2 separate regions of the Homo sapiens genome follow, and region 2 is linked to region 1. A link means that fine-mapping ties the variant in region 1 to the expression of a gene that starts in the linked region. Tissue or cell type: whole blood. Region 1 holds a variant in brackets; the other region holds the start of a gene. All regions are shown on one strand. Distances are between the middles of the regions.

The links. PIP is the estimated chance that this variant, and not a neighbour inherited with it, causes the effect.
Region 2: ENTPD1 starts here. The variant in region 1 is fine-mapped to the expression of ENTPD1 in whole blood (INTERVAL, PIP 0.97).

What each region holds. Positions count from the first base shown.
Region 1 is chr10:95,849,424-95,857,530 of GRCh38, forward strand. The region is part of intron 7 of ENTPD1 (ectonucleoside triphosphate diphosphohydrolase 1); the gene reads left to right. The region is part of intron 3 of ENTPD1-AS1 (ENTPD1 antisense RNA 1); the gene reads right to left. Among named protein-coding and RNA genes, the nearest start is that of CC2D2B, 54 kb to the right of the region's middle. The variant G/T (reference allele first, on the strand shown) is at 4,072.
Region 2 is chr10:95,751,143-95,759,249 of GRCh38, forward strand. ENTPD1 (ectonucleoside triphosphate diphosphohydrolase 1) reads left to right here and starts at 5,021. Exons shown (of 10, transcript NM_001776.6): 1 at 5,021-5,113. The coding sequence starts at 5,098. ENTPD1-AS1 (ENTPD1 antisense RNA 1) reads right to left here. Exons shown (of 6, transcript NR_038444.1): 6 at 2,064-5,572. RefSeq lists an enhancer at 4,582-4,881 and a silencer at 6,212-6,271.

The DNA.
Region 1 (8,107 bases):
ATGTAAGAAGGGAGGTTCAGCTCCTCCCCTCCAGGACCCCAGCAAGAGAGTTTCTCCTAAGGTCACCTGGCTTGGCCCAAGACAAAGCTCTAGAAGAGAACATAGGCACTGTCGTAATCAGATCTGATTCTACTTCTGGCTTCTTATGAACTGTATGAGCTCTTCATTTTCTTGGTCTCTGAGAAAACAATAGGTAATGCCATAGATCCAGACTTACCTTAACCATGGTCCAAACCACAGTCTACCCTCCCCTCAAGGTTCCTGAGGGAAATACATGACAAGACAATGACTGGCAGAGTAATATTTGGTTATTAGTTGGCTGCAAACCCAAATTCAGAAGAAACTGAACCTCACTTGAATGCCCTGTGGCTGAGCTGGCACTGGCTCTTCACCTTGGACTTTTTTTTGGGCCAGGGCCCTTGCCTTAGATTGAACTCCTTGAAGAGGAAGGAGGGTGCCACCTTGGCCAAGGGCCTTTTTCATTCCAGTCACTGCGAGGATGTAAATCTAAAGTCAATGAACATACCCTTGTGTCTTGAGTTTGTAACTTCTCAGAAAGTTTCACTTCCTGGGAAACATGGCCAATTCCTGCCTTCAAGCTTGAGCAAACCTTTCCTCCTTAGGGGACTGAAATTTCTTGCCTTTGAATGTGATTCATCCAACCAAAGCAGGGAGAGATAGGGGCTGGAAAAGGGTGGAGGAGTCTTGAACTCCCCCTGGAGGCTTTTCTATTTGATCCCTTAGTTCCTCATTGAGATTGTTCTCCCAGCCTTCTGAACCTCAGTTTGGCAGTTCCTGAGACTATCGCATTGCCTGCCTCTATGTAGGATCTTTCTCCTCTAGATACAGCCCTCAGGGTCAGGACTGTCCTGTCCCGATTTCTGCATTGGCAGTTTCATTCTGCTTCAGATTTTTGATGTTTTTTGTTTTGTTTTGTTTTATGCCCTCTGTAATGTATCCCTAAGACCTAAAGTTTTTTTGTCTGTTTCCTCATCTGTACAATGGGGACAGTAATATCTACCTCATTGATAGTTGTGAGTCAGACAAGCAGTGATGGTCTGGGAAATGTCCAACAACCAACTCTCGGGGAATGGGGAGCTGATTTGTAGCACTTACCAGTTTCCATGGTGTAAGTAGTTCTACCACAGCCTATTTCAAGCTATATCAACATATCAACTGGCTCACAAAAATCTGGAAATTTTAAGAATCAGCTCTTGTGAGTACATAAGAAAGAGTCAGCTCCAGCACACCACTGTAAATAGCAAAAAGCGGGCATACCCCAGCACCACCCTTAAAAAGGTTAGGTCTTTATCCTAGCAGTCTTCATTCTATGCTGTCCTTCCTGCAGGGAGTTCCTGTTATCGAGTCCTGCCTCTTGAAGCATAGCTATGTGCAACACAGAAATCCAGTTTCATTCCCATTCTTTCCAGAACTAGTTAGCCTGGGTGTTCTCAAGCCACAGAGAATTTGTTGGGGAGGGAGTTTTTGCCACAGTTGCATTCAGCACTGATGATCTGATTCTTAGTTGGTAAATATGGTATTAAAAATTGTCATTGCTTTAGTCAGTCTGGCTACACTGTAGCCTTGGTTGCTAAACAGAATCCAATGTTGTGGGCAAATTAGAAACACTAACAAGAAAGAGGGAACATCTGTAGGGAATTACTTATGAGGTAATTTAGAAATTATTTTTAAAGATCACATTGTGCTGTTTATATAAATAAGAAAGGGAAGAAACAAGTTCAATAGGAAACTGGAATTAAAGAACATTAAAAACACATTTGTTTACATATGTATACATAAATGTGTGTATATTTATATTTATATTTATTTATATTTATATTTTTGTTGGTACAAAAGTAATTGTGGTTTCAGACCATGAATTTTATTTTTTTAATTTTTTTTGAAAAGTACTAAATATATAAATATTCACAAGTTCAACAAAGGAGAGAAAATAACACCAATAAAATCCCCAAAAACTTAACAATACATTAATCTAGGTTGGATGATCTTTTTTTTTTAATTATACTTTAAGTTCTAGGGTACATGTACACAACATGCAGGTTTGTTAGATATGTATACATACGCCATGTTGGTGTGCTGCACCCATTAACTCGTCATTTACATTAGGTATATCTCCTAATGCTATCCCTCCCCCCTCCCCCCACCCCACGACAGTCCCCGGTGTGTGATGTTCCCCTTCCTGTGTCCATGTGTTCTCATTGTTCAATTCCCACCTATGAGTGAGAACATGCAGTGTTTGTTTTTTTGTCCCTGCGATAGTTTGCTGAGAATGATGGTTTCCAGCTCCATCCATGTCCCTGCAAAGGACATGAACTCATCATTTTTTATGGCTGCATAGTATTCCATGGTGTATATGTGCCACATTTTCTTAATCCAGTCTATCATTGATTGACATTTGGGTTGGTTCCAAGTCTTTGCTATTGTGAATAGTGCCGCAGTAAACATACGTGTGCATGTGTCTTTATAGCAGCATGATTTATAATCCTTTGGGTATATACCCAGTAATGGGATGGCTGGGTCAAATGGTATTTCTAGTTCTAGATCCTTGAGGAATCGCCACACTGTCTTCCATAATGGTTGAACTAGTTTACAGTCCCACCAACAGTGTAAAAGTGTTCCTATTTCTCCACATCCTCTCCAGCACCTGTCGTTTCCTGACTTTTTAATGATTGCCATTCTAACTGGTGTGAGATGGTATCTCATTGTGGTTTTGATTTGCATTTCTCTGATGGCCAGTGATGATGAGCATTTTTTCATGTATCTGTTGGCTGCAAAAATGTCTTCTTTTGAGAAGTGTCTATTCAGGTCCTTCGCCCACTTTGTGATGGGGTTGTTTGTTTTTTTCTTGTAAATTTGTTTGAGTTCATTTTAGATTCTGGATATTAGCCCTTTGTCAGATGATTAGGTTGCAAAAATTTTCTCCCATTCTGTAGGTTGCCTGTTCACTCTGATGGTAGTTTCTTTTGCTGTGCAGAAGCTCTTTAGTTTAATTAGATCCCATTTGTCAATTTTGGCTTTTGTTGCCATTGCTTTTGGTGTATTAGACATGAAGTCTTTGCCCATGCCCATGTCCTGAATAGTATTGCCTAGGTTTTCTTCTAGGGTTTTTATGGTTTTGGGTCTAACATGTAAGTCTTTAATCCATCTTGAATTAATTTTTGTCTAAGGTGTAAGGAAGGGATCCAGTTTCAGCTTTCTACGTATGGCTAGCCAGTTTTCCCAGCACCATTTATTAAATAGGGAATCCTTTCCCCATTGTTTGTTTTTGTCAGGTTTGTCAAAGATCGGATAGTTGTAGATATGTGGCATTATTTCTGAGGGCTCTGTTCTGTTCCATTGGTCTGTATCTCTGTTTTGGTACCAGTATCATGCTGTTTTGGTTACTGTAGCCTTGTAGTATAGTTTGAAGTCAGGTAGCGTGATGCCTTCAGCTTTGTTCTTTTGGCTTAGGATTGACTTGGCAATGCAGGCTCTTTTTTGGTTCCATATGAACTTTAAAGTATTTTTTTCCAATTCTGTGAAGAAAGTTATTGGTAGCTTGATGGGGATGGCATTGAATCTATAAATTACCTTGGGCAGTATGGCCATTTTCATGACATTGATTCTTCCTACCCATGAGCATGAAATGTTCTTCCATTTGTTTGTATCCTCTTTTATTTCATTGAGCAGTGGTTTGTAGTTCTCCTTGAAGAGGTCCTTCACATCCCTTGTAAGTTGGACTCCCAGGTATTTTATTCTCTTTGAAGCAATTGTGAATGGGAGTTCACTCATAATTTGGCTCTCTGTTTGTCTGTTATTGGTGTATAAGAACGCTTGTGGTTTTTGCACATTGATTTTGTATCCTGAGACTTTGCTGAAGTTGTTTATCAGCTTAAGGAGATTTTGGGCTGAGATGATGGGGTTTTCTAGACATACAATCATGTCATCTGCAAACAGGGACAATTTGACTTCCTCTTTTCCTAATTGAATGCCCTTTATTTCCTTCTCCTGCCTGATTGCCCTGGCCAGAACTTCCAACACTATGTTGAATAGGAGTGGTGAGAGAGGGTA[G/T]CCCTGTCTTGTGCCAGTTTTCAAAGGGAATGCTTCCAGTTTTTGCCCATTCAGTATGATATTGGCTGTGGGTTTGTCATAGATAGCTCTTATTATTTTGAGATATGTCCCATCATTACCTAATTTATTGAGAGTTTTTAGCATGAAGAGTTGTTGAATTTTGTCAAAGGCCTTTTCTGCATCTATTGAGATAATCATGTGGCTTTTGTCTTTGGTTCTGTTTATATGCTGGATTACGTTTATTGATTTTCGTATGTTGATCCAGCCTTCCATCCCAGGGATGAAGCCCACTTCATCATGGTGGATAAGCTTTTTGATGTGCTGCTGGATTCGGTTTGCCAGTATTTTATTGAGGATTTTTGCATCAATGTTCATCAAGGATATTGGTCTAAAATTCTCTTTTTTTGTTGTGTCTCTGCCAAGCTTTGGTATCAGGATGATGCTGGCCTCATAAAATGAGTTAGGGCAGATTCCCTCTTTTTCTATTGATTGGAATAGTTTCAGAAGGAATGGTACCAGCTTCTCCTTGTATCTCTGGTAGAATTCGGCTGTGAATCCATCTGGTCCTGGACTTTTTTTGGTTGGTAAGCTATTAATTATTGCCTCAATTTCAGAGCCTGTTATTGGTCTATTCAGAGATTCAACTTCTTCCTCGTTTAGTCTTGGGAGGGTGTGTGTGTCGAGGAATTTATCTATTTCTTCTAGATTTTCTAGTTTATTTGCATAGAGGTGTTTATAGTATTCTCTGATGGTAGTTTGTATTTCTGTGGGATCGGTGGTGATATCCCCTTTACCATTTTTTATTGCATCTGTTTGATTCTTCCCTGTTTTCTTCTTTATTAGTCTTGCTAGCAGTCTATCAATTTTGTTGATCTTTTCAAAAAACCAGCTCCTGGATTCACTGATTTGTTGAAGGGCTTTTTGTGTCTCTATTTCCTTCAGTTCTGCTGTGATCTTAGTTATTTCTTGCCTTCTGCTAGCTTTTGAATATGTTTGCTCTTGCTTCTCTAGTTCTTTTAATTGTGATGTTAGGTTGTCAATTTTAGATCTTTCCTGCTTTCTCTTGTGGGCATTTAGTGCCATAAATTTCCCTCTACATACTGCTTTGAATGTGTCCCAGAGATTCTGGTATGTTGTGTCTTTGTTCTCGTTGGTTTCAAAGAACATCTTTATTTCTGCCTTCATTTCGTTACGTACCCAGTAGTCATTCAGGAGCAGGTTGTTCAGTTTCCATGTAGTTGAGCAGTTTTGTGTGAGTTTCTTAATCCTGAGTTCTAGTTTGATTGCACTGTGGTCTGAGAGACAGTTTGTTATAATTTCTGTTCTTTTACATTTGCTGAGGAGTGCTTTACTTCCAACTATGTGGTCAATTTTGGAATAAGTGTGGTGTGGCGCTGAAAAGAATGTATATTCTGTTGATTAGGGGTGGAGAGTTCTGTAGATGTCTATCTATTAGGTCCACTTGGTGCAGAGCTGAGTTCAATTCCTGGATATCCTTGTTAACTTTCTGTCTCATTGATCTGTCTAATGTTGACAGTGGGGTGTTAAAGTCTCCCATTATTATTGTGTGGGAGTCTAAGTCTCTTTGTGGGTCACTAAGGACTTGCTTTATGAATTTGGGTGCTCCTGTATTGGGTGCATATATATTTAGGATAGTTAGCTCTTCTTGTTGAATTGATCCCTTTACCATTATGTAATGGCCTTCTTTGTCTCTTTTGATCTTTGTTGGTTTAAAGTCTGTTTTATCTGAGACTAGGATTGCAACCCCTGCCTTTTTTTGTTTTCTATTTGCTTGATAGATCTTCCTCCATCCCTTTATTTAAGCCTATGTGTGTCTCTGCACACGAGATGGGTTTCCTGAATACAGCACACTGATGGGTCTTGACTCTTTATCCAATTTGCCAGTCTGTGTCTTTTAATTGGAGCATTTAGCCCATTTACATTTAAGGTTAATATTGTTATGTGTGAATTTGATCCTGTCATTATGATGTTAGCTGGTTATTTTGCTCGTTAGTTGATGCAGTTTCTTCCTAGCCTTGATGGTCTTTACAATTTGGCATGTTTTTGCAGTGGCTGGTACCAGTTGTTCCTTTCCATGTTTAGTGCTTCCTTCAGGAGCTCTTTTAGGGCAGGCCTGGTGGTGACAGAATCTCTCAGTGTTTGCTTGTCTGTAAAGTATTTTATTTCTCCTTCACTTATGAAGCTTAGGTTGGCTGGACATGAAATTCTGGGTTGAAAATTCTTTTCTTTAAGAATGTTGAATATTGGCTACCACTCTCTTCTGGCTTATAGAGTTTCTGCCAAAAGGTCTGCTGTTAGTCTGATGGGCTTCCCTTTGTGGGTAACCCGACCTTTCTCTCTGGCTGCCCTTAACATTTTTTCCTTCATTTCAACTTTGGTGAATCTGATAATTATGTGTCTTGGAGTTGCTCTTCTCGAGGAGTATCTTTGTGGCGTTCTCTGTATTTCCTTAATTTGAATGTTGGCTTGCCTTGCTAGATTGGGGAAGTTCTCCTGGATAATATCCCGCAGAGTGTTTTCCAACTTGGTTCCATTCTCCCCGTCACTTTCAGGTACACCAATCAGACGTAGATTTGGTCTTTTCACATAATCCCATATTTCTGGGAGGCTTTGTCCGTTTCTCTTTATTCTTTTTTCTCTAAACTTCCCTTCTCACTTCAATTCATTCATTTCGCTAGACCATTCTTAAAAGAAGATATACAAATGGCCAACAAACATGAAAAAATGCTCAACATCACTAATTATCAGGGAAATGCAAATTAAAACCACAGTGAGACACTACCTTACTCTCCTGCAAGAATGGTCATAATTTAAAAATCAAAAAATAATAGATGTTGGCATGGATGTGGTGTAAAGGGAACACTTTTGCACTGCTGGTGGGAATGTAAACCAGTACAACCACTATGGAAAACAGTATAGAGACTCCTTAAGGAACTAAAAGTAGAACTACTGTTTGATCCAGCAATCCCACTACTGGATATCTACCCAGAGGAAAATAAGTCATTGTATGAAAAAGACACTTGCACACACATGTTCACAGCAACACAATTCGCAGTTGCAAAAATATGGAACCAGTCCAAATGCCCATCAATCAACAAGTGGACAAAGAAAATGTGGTAAATATATATATGTATGCATATATATATATATATATATACACACACATAAATGTATATACACACACTATGGAATACTACTCAGCCATAAAAAGGAATGAAATCATGGCATTTGCAGCAAGGACACATGATGTATTAAGTAAAACAAAGCAGTATTATAAAAAATTTGTCTAGTATCATCATATTTAGGTTATATATATACATATACACATATATAATTATATAAATATGTATTCACTATTTTCTATTACATATCTATTTGCTATAGATATTAAACAGTAAATTGTTAAAAAGTGTACATCTCTAGAGGATGGTTAGATTAAGGAGGGACTTCCATTTTTAACTTGTATTATTTAAATTCTATATAATAAACGTGTTTTTTTTTAATAAGCCAGCATTTTAAAGACATTTCTATTTTGAAGGAAAAGAAATGAATAGGGAAACTTCATGTTTTGAGAAATAAATAAGAGCAAGATTCTGAGATGCCAGAGGGAGGCTTCTGAAGGTCATGGGAAATTTTTCAAGAGCCGATGGCATGTAGTGTCTTGGGGGGTTGGAGGTGGCATGGACCAGGAGGCCCTGCTGACTTGATCGCTATGTATCCTACTGAAGGCTCAATATGTTGCTAAATCTACCTCATAGAAATTTGTTGTTTGTTGATCTGTTTTTTATAATTTGTACTTACTTTATAAAGCAAATGTCACTACTTAGCAAAAGCAAGAGAGTTTCTAGATGCTTACCTCATTGAGACTTTTGCTAATAGAATAAGCTCTAGGATTAATTTCAGAAAGTCTTTTGAAATGTAACAATTTAAGGAAATATTTATTAGTGCTTTATTACATGCTCATTATAAAAAAACTGTACAAAAAGCTTAAAGTAAAGACTAAAAGGTCTCTTCT
Region 2 (8,107 bases), 98 kb before region 1:
CTTACATATTCGATGACAGGAATTTAAATTTTATTTTATGCATGATAAGGAGACTAGAATTTTTAAAGTCTGCCAATGACATTATCAGATATCGATTTCAGAAAGATGAGAGAGTATGCACTATGGCAGAAGTGACGAGAATGGAGAGAGGAGATGAATTTGAGAGATCTTAAGGTATAGAAACAATTGGATTTGGTAAACAATAAGATGTGGGATGTGGGGAGGGGTCTAGGAGGACCCTGAGGTTGCTGGGTTGTGTGACTAGGTGGATGGTAGTGCCATTATCTAATGTAGGGGTTGGGCGCAGTGGCTCACGCCTGTAATCCCAGGACTTTGGGAGGCCGAGGCAGCCTATCACCTGAGGTCAGGAGTTCGAGACCAGGCTGGACCACATGGCAAAACCCTGTCTCTCCTAACACAAAATTAGCCAGGCATGGTGGTGTGCACCTGCAATCCCAGCTACTCAGGAGGTGGAGGCACAAGAATCGCTTGAACCTGGGAGGCAGAGGTTGCAGTGAGTCAAGATCGTGCCACTGCACTCCAGCCTGGGCGACAGAGTGAGACATCGTCTCAAAAAAAAAAAAAAAAGTAGGGAATACTGGTACTGGATGGGAGCAGATTTGGAAGTAAAGATACAGAGTACAGTTTGGATGCTAAGTTTGAGCTGCTTGTGGGATATTCTCTTGACACCCAGTAGGTGGATGGAAATATGGATCTGGTGCTCATGGGAGTGGACTTGGCAGAAATGTAAAGGCATAAGAAGTTATGACCTAGGTAGAATAAGTGAAGTAGGGAGAGAAGGCAAAGGGTGAAGGTCTAGGGAATACCAACATTTACAAGACACAAAAGTTGACTGAAAAGGAGCCATCATACACAGATGGAGGAGGAAAATCAGACATGAGGGGGGTTCTGGAAAATAAGGAGAGATCAATTTTCAAGAAAGAAGGAAGGCCAACAATGGCCCATGCTACATAGATCCAAGAAGATAAAACACAAAAATTGGTCTTTGCTTTACAGGCCATTGGCAATCTTAGGGCAGTTTCATTGGCATGGTGCGGTGAGAAACGGGAATGCAATGGAAGGAGGAGTAAATGAATGAGGAGAGAATGGAGGTGATGAAGGAAGGCAAAGGTAGACCATGGTCTCAAGTAGCTTGTTTGTGAAGGAGCTGTTTTTGTTTTAATTAATTTTTTAAAAATTGTGATAAAATAGACATAAAAGTTACTATATTGCTGGGCCCAGTGTCTCACGCCTGTAATCCCAGCACTTTGGGAGGCCGAGGTGGGCAGATCACCTGAGGTCAGGAGTTCGAGACCAGCCGCCTGACCAACATGGAGAAACCCTGTCTCTACTAAAAACACAAAATTAGCTGGGTGTGGTGGTGCATGCCTGTAATCCCAGCTACTCGGGAGGCTGAGGCAGGAGAATCACTTGCACCCAGGAGGCAGGGGTTGCGGTGAGCCGAGATGCTGAGATCGCGACATTGCACTCCAGCCTGGGCAATAAGAGCGAAACTCTGTCTCAAAAAAAAAGTTACCATATTAATCATTTAAAATTTATTTTTATTTTTGTAGAGATGGGGTCTTGTTATGTTGCCTAGGCTGGTCTCAAACTCCAGGCCTCCAGACAACCTACTGCTTCAGCCTCCCAAAATGCTGGGGTTACACGGTGAGCCAATGCACCTGGCCCATATTAATCATTTTTAACAGTATACTTAAGTATTTTTAAGTACATTCACATTGTTGTGCTGCCAATCTCAAGAATTTATTCATCTTGCAACACTAATAATTCATACCATTAAACAACAGAATTTGTTTTTAAGAATGAGAATCACTTAAATATTTTATATGCATAGGGGGATGAACCGGTACAGTGAAAGAGGATGAAGGTGTAGGAAAAATGAAAATTCTACCATTCTAAGAACTTTATAAGACCATTTCATCATTAAAAGACAGACAAATATCTTTACCCCTTTCTGACAACTCCTTCCATCTTTCTGAGTGCAGTTTTAATTTTCTACTTTCTATTACAAAAAAAAACAATAAAATTGATGATAATTTTTTGTTGAGAAAGACGATTTATTTTTTAAGATAAATTCTGAGGCCTTTAGAAAGATACACACAAACTCCCATCTCTTTTATAATTATTCTTGTATGAATTGGTGATAATATATACTTAACCATAGTATTTTCATGATGCTGAGGAGGGTGCGAACCTGGACAACGTGATTAAATTGTAGCACAGAGCATATTACCATAAAAAGCATTAAATGTTGTCAAAAGGCTCATGTAATATGAATTAGGGGTTAAAACTATGTTTCTATTACTCCATATTCAGTTTGGATGAACTTCAAATATTTATGAAGTGCTAGTTACTATAATGAGATTTTACCTCTCCTGGTTAAACCAGAAGTTGGGTACTAGAACAATTTACTTTTTACTAACTCTTTCTCTCCCTGATGAAATGTAAAGAGAATGAGACAATTGTCAAAGTAACCTTTTGTCGACAACGTCTGATACAACATGACTGAAGTGACCTTGAATTTTAATTTTGTTTAAAATAGAGAACTGTGGCTAGGCACTGTGGCTCACACCTGTAATCCTAGCACTTTGGGAGGCCAAGGCAAGCGGATCACTTGAGGCCAGGAGTTTGAGACCAGCCTGGACAACATGGTGAAACCCAATCTCTACTAAAAATACAAAAATTAGCCAGGCTTAGTGGTGCGCATCTATAATCCCAGTTACGCGGGAGGCTGAGGCACAAGAATCACTTGAACCTGGGAGGCAGAGGTTGCAGTGAGCCAAGATCACGCCACTGCACTCCAGCCTGGATGACAGAGTGAGGCTCTGTCTCAAAAAAAAGAATGTAAGAACGTAGTAAAATAGGCCAGGCATGGTGGCTCACGCCTGTAATCCCAGCACTTTGGGAGGCTGAGGCGGGCGGATCACCTGAGGTCAGGAGTTCGAGACCAGCCTGACCAACATGGTGAAACCCCATCTCTACTAAAAATACACAAATTAGCTGGGCAAGGTGGCGGGCGCCTGTAATCCCAGCTACTTGGAGGCAGAGGCAGGAGAATCACTTGAACCCGGGAGGCAGAGGGTGCAGTAAGCTGAGATGGCTCCATTGCACTCCAGCCTGGGAGACAAGAGTAAAACTCTTGTCTCAAAAAAAAAAAAAAAAAAAGAACCTAATATCCTAATGTAATAAAGTAGAGAACCGTTGCCACAGCACCCACCAAAGTGTGTCTCTCATTGACAAGCTCAGGTACTTGTTTGTCTGTTTCTCCTGCCTACCCCTCAGCCACTCTGGATCTTCCCTTTGATCATTCTTTTCTCTTTCTAGCTTTGATGTTTTGGTTTCCATTCTGTAATTCGCACACTATTTTGTGGACATGCTCTTTTCAAATTTCTCTCCAAAACAATAGTACAAAGGCAGTCATAAACCAATTGTTGGTTTTTACAAAAAATCCCATCATATCACCAAAAACCAGTTTTATCATAACAGGATGAATATCAGACCAATATTCATTATTAGAGATGTAGTCTAAACTGACTCGGGAGAAGACATCCATTGAGTCTTTCATTCAGTGTAATTAGTTGTTATCATACATGCAAAATCCTATAACTATAAAGCATTTCAGAAATAAAGTATTGTTAAACAGCTCCAAATTTATTAAAGTATAAAAAATGTATTGAGTATATACCATGTGGCACCGTGCAAAGTAACAGAGATGCCTAAACTAAAAGGTTATCCTTTGTCCTTATTAAAGTATGACTGAAAGCTCGCTGGAGAATATAGTTTCTACATAGAGTCAAAACAGTCCTTCGGGCTCACAAATTTAATGATTTATATGGTATAACTGGCTTTAGATACAAATTTACATGCCAGACAAGCAATGTAGAAAAATCAAGAACTAGGAAACAGGAAAACAGATCTACATTTCTGCTTTGCTGCAATTCATTCATTTTTTTCAACCATTCATCAAATATTTATTGAGAGCCCATGCTGTGAGAGAAACTGTATTAGGTGCTGGGGAACATGGTAGCAAATAAGAGAGACCATGTATGTGAGCATGAGCAGGTGGCTTAACCTCTCCACATCTCTAACCTCTTTTAGACTCAATGTCTGAGGTATCTTTCAGACCTGAAATGCTAAGGTTTGCAACAGCCTTGTGGAGGGAGAAGCTGCCAAGTCGCCTTGGGACTTGAGGACTTACCTTCCTTTCAAAGGATTAGCCCTTGTTTTGATTTCAAAATAATTTTGTTACACAGTTTAAAAATAATTTGGTCAGGCTCTCATCTACATTGGGGTAATCTTGACGGTCTGGATGTGGTAATTCATGCTCATTAGACTTCAAAGGTAGGAAGTCAAAGTTGGGAAATGGTGGATGACTTTCATCAATTCATAGCCAGGCAGCGGTTCCCATTGAGCAGCTCCTCTGTGGTTCCACCCAGCCTTCCAACCAATAACGCAGCGTCTCCTGCAGGAAACTCATCGCTTGGGTCACCTGTTGCTCTTTGCTCTAATGAGCCTTGAGAAAGGATTGCTGGTCATGGGACCAGAGGCTTTATGGGGAGGGAAGAACTGTTCTTGACTTTCAGTTTTTCGAGCGGGTTTCAAGGTAACAACTTTCTTATTATCTAGCTTCATAATTGCAGTAAGGAATAGCTTTTTTTGCTTGCAGCTGAGATGACTTTTTCAAGGGAGAAAAAGGGATTTCTATAACGAAGAGAGGGAGAGAGAGATGAAGAGGGAGGGAGTAAGGGAGAGAGGGAAGAAGGGAGAAAGAGAGAGAGATTTGAATATACATTGCTTCAAGGATGCAAAAAATTACAACCTGGAAAAGGCTTCGAGTAACTTTAGGAAAATGAGCTGCTGGACTCCTCAGTCAATCTGTCCTTTCTAGTCAATGAAAAAGACAGGGTTTGAGGTTCCTTCCGAAACGGGGCCGGCTAATTTAGCCCCTCCCACGAGCCCAAGGGTCTGTTATATCTCTGTTTCCTTGAGGACCTCTCTCACGGAGACGGACCACAGCAAGCAGAGGCTGGGGGGGGGAAAGACGAGGAAAGAGGAGGAAAACAAAAGCTGCTACTTATGGAAGATACAAAGGGTAAGACCAAAATTGATTTGATCTGAATCCTTAAGAAAAAAAAAATAGAAGGAAAAATAAAAGCCCAGACCAAAAAGCAAGTACTTGAAAGCTGGAGGCAAAAAGCCCTGAATGAACTTTCCCACCCTCTTCCTTCTGAGAGGAGGCAGAGAAAGAGCTTTGGGAAACTTTTTAGGAAGCAGAGTCCAGGGTTGCAGTCAAGGGTGGCTCTAGAGCAAGCTGGAGGGGCTCATGAATATTCATTATCAATTTGTATTCAGAGTTGGTTTTTTTAGAGGCAAATGACTTTTTCAGTCCCCTTGCAGTTTAAGAGGCAGCTGCCTCATCTGCAGTCCGGACTCATCTAGCCTCGGGTCTGTACCTCAGGGTGTTTGCTTGAAGATGCTGGGCTCTGCGTGTAGATTTGTTTTGTTCTCGAATTTCTTGCATGCTTTCCTGTTGTGAAATTAGCAAAGGCTTCTTTGCTGGGAACAAGACAGAGAAGTTAATGTGGCACAAGGCTGTCACAACAGGACCCCAGAGTATGTCTTTCAAAATGCTGAAAGTTTCTTGAGATATGTGGGGGAGTTTTATGTGGGGGACAGAGTGGGGGACGGGGACGGGTAGAGGGAGGAAATAGAATAATTCTATCTTAAAAGGGCAGGTCACATCTGACTACATTTAGATTTTGTCTAAAAACTACAAGAGCAGCCTGGTTTGCACAGATGGTGTGCAGTCTCTATCTTTTACCTCTTTTGGGCATTTTCTGCCAAGACGGAGAGCCAGCTGCTTGCCAGCGTGTGAGAGCCAGGAAGAATCTCTGCAGCAGTGAGGGAGTATAGGGTTGTAAACCTCCTTCTCCTCCTTCTTTATCATCTCTAACTTCTAACATTCCCACATGCTTATACCGTATAGAACATGGAAGAATAGCATGAGTAGCCAACATATTTCTTAATACTTACAATAATGATAGCTGTTAATGTTGACTAAGTCTTTATTCTGTGTTGGGAGCTATACCTAGCATATTACATGTGCTACTTACTTGTCACATGAACCTTACAAGTGCTATCATTGACATTCCCATTTTCCAGATGGCATAATTGAGGTACTGAGAGGATAACTTGCCTTGAGATCTCATAGTTAGTAAGGGCTGAGTGTGGATGGAGGTGGTCTGAGGCAGGGCTGGTGGGCTTTTCCACTCCCCAATACTGTTTCTCTGCTTTTTCTGGTGCCCTGACATTGTGGATTTCAGGTTTGCAAATCCTTGAAGCTACTGGGGAAGTGATACTGGTAAAATCTTAAGTCTGTGAAGGAATTTGTACTTTGCACTCAAGTTCACATACATTTTCCTCATTTGGTGCTCATGGCCATTCTCTATGAGAAGCAGGTATTGTTATTATGGTCTTTTGCAAAAAGGAGAAACTGAGGTCAGAAGGGGTTAGTTTGGTGACACCAGTCACAGCTAGTTGTCAAAAGTCTGGACTGGGGGGCTGGATGTGGTGGCTCGCACCTGTAATCCCAGCACTTTGGGAGGCCGAGGTGGGCGGATCACCTGAGGTCAGGAGTTCGAGACCGGCCTGGCCAACATGATGAAACCCTGTCTCTACTAAAAATACAAAAATTAGCTGGGTGTGGTGGTGTGCGCCTGTAGTCCCAGCCACTTGGAAGGCTGAGGTAGGAGAATCACCTGAACCCGGGAGGCAGAGGTTGCAGTGAGCTGAGGTTGCACCACTGCACTCCAGCCTGGGCGAGAGTGAGACACTGTCTCAAAAAAAAAAAAAAAAAAAAAAAAAAAAGATTTGGACTGGATCTGAAACCCTCTGCTTCTGGTTTTTCTTCCAACCTACAGAGCAGACCCAGTCATCTCTGAACGTCTGTCCCCACCCCAAGCTGCGCCTCATTGAGTTGCTTTCAGTTCCCCAAAGGAACTGCATCTTTCCTCAGACTGAAGCTAGGCACTTTCTTCTGTTTTAAGGGCCTATCTGGTACTCTGCTTCCCCTTTAGTCTGGAGCCGAGCTGCCTGGGTTTGAATTTCAGCTCCACCATTTACTGTGTGCCTTAGTTTCATCATCTGTAACATGAAGAGAATAACAGTAACATCTATCTTACAGGGTTGTGGTAAGGACTGAATGAGGGATTCATGCAAAGTTTTTAGAACAGGGCCTGATATATAGTATTGCTAAATAAATATTAACATTTGCTATCACTGCTTGAAGCCTCATATTGGGTGTTATTCCCCTTTAAGCCTTCTCTAATCCTTCAAGTCTAGATTAGCCCCCATCTTGGATGCTTCTATAGTACCTCATCAGTTATGCCTAAGGTGGCACTCATCATACTTGTCCATGCTCCTGCCCTCTGCATCACCTTCTCTCCCTTCCAATTATATTTTCTGTATTCACCTTTAGATCTGCAGTGTCTAGTGCAATTTTATTTTTAGTCTCTAAACTTGTGGCAACTTTCTCATCAGTGTGGGCAGAGTGGTGGGAGAGGGGCCTCAGTCATGATAGGGGTACAGGAGGTAGCCACAGAGGATGACCATATAGCAGTCATAGAGGGCCAGAAGCCACGCAGGAAGTGGACATATGCTGAGTACTGATTCAGGAAGAGCACATGTCATTCAGCAACCAATGGTTAAGGTGTCAGGTTTCAATGACCTTCTCCATGAGGTCTGTGAGGTCCTCTGACGTACTTATTGTGGGTCAGCTTGGCAGCCACATTCATCAGCCCCTGGGACAGGTTCTTGAATTTGGTGTTCCTCTCAGAGAACATCCCAAGCTTTCCTTAGAAGGTGGTACACACCAGGCTCTTGTGCAAGTCCAAAAGGTCCTTGTCAGCCATTAGCACCTTGAGTTCCCTAATGGGAACTCAATAAATATTTAGTAAGTGAAGTATTATTATTTTAGCTGATGCTCATTTGAGACCTTCAAGAGGCTTGTTTAAAAGGGGACCTTTGAGTTTGCAGTAGGGTTCCCCACTGGTACATATAGATCTTTGGCACAATCTGTAAAGACGTC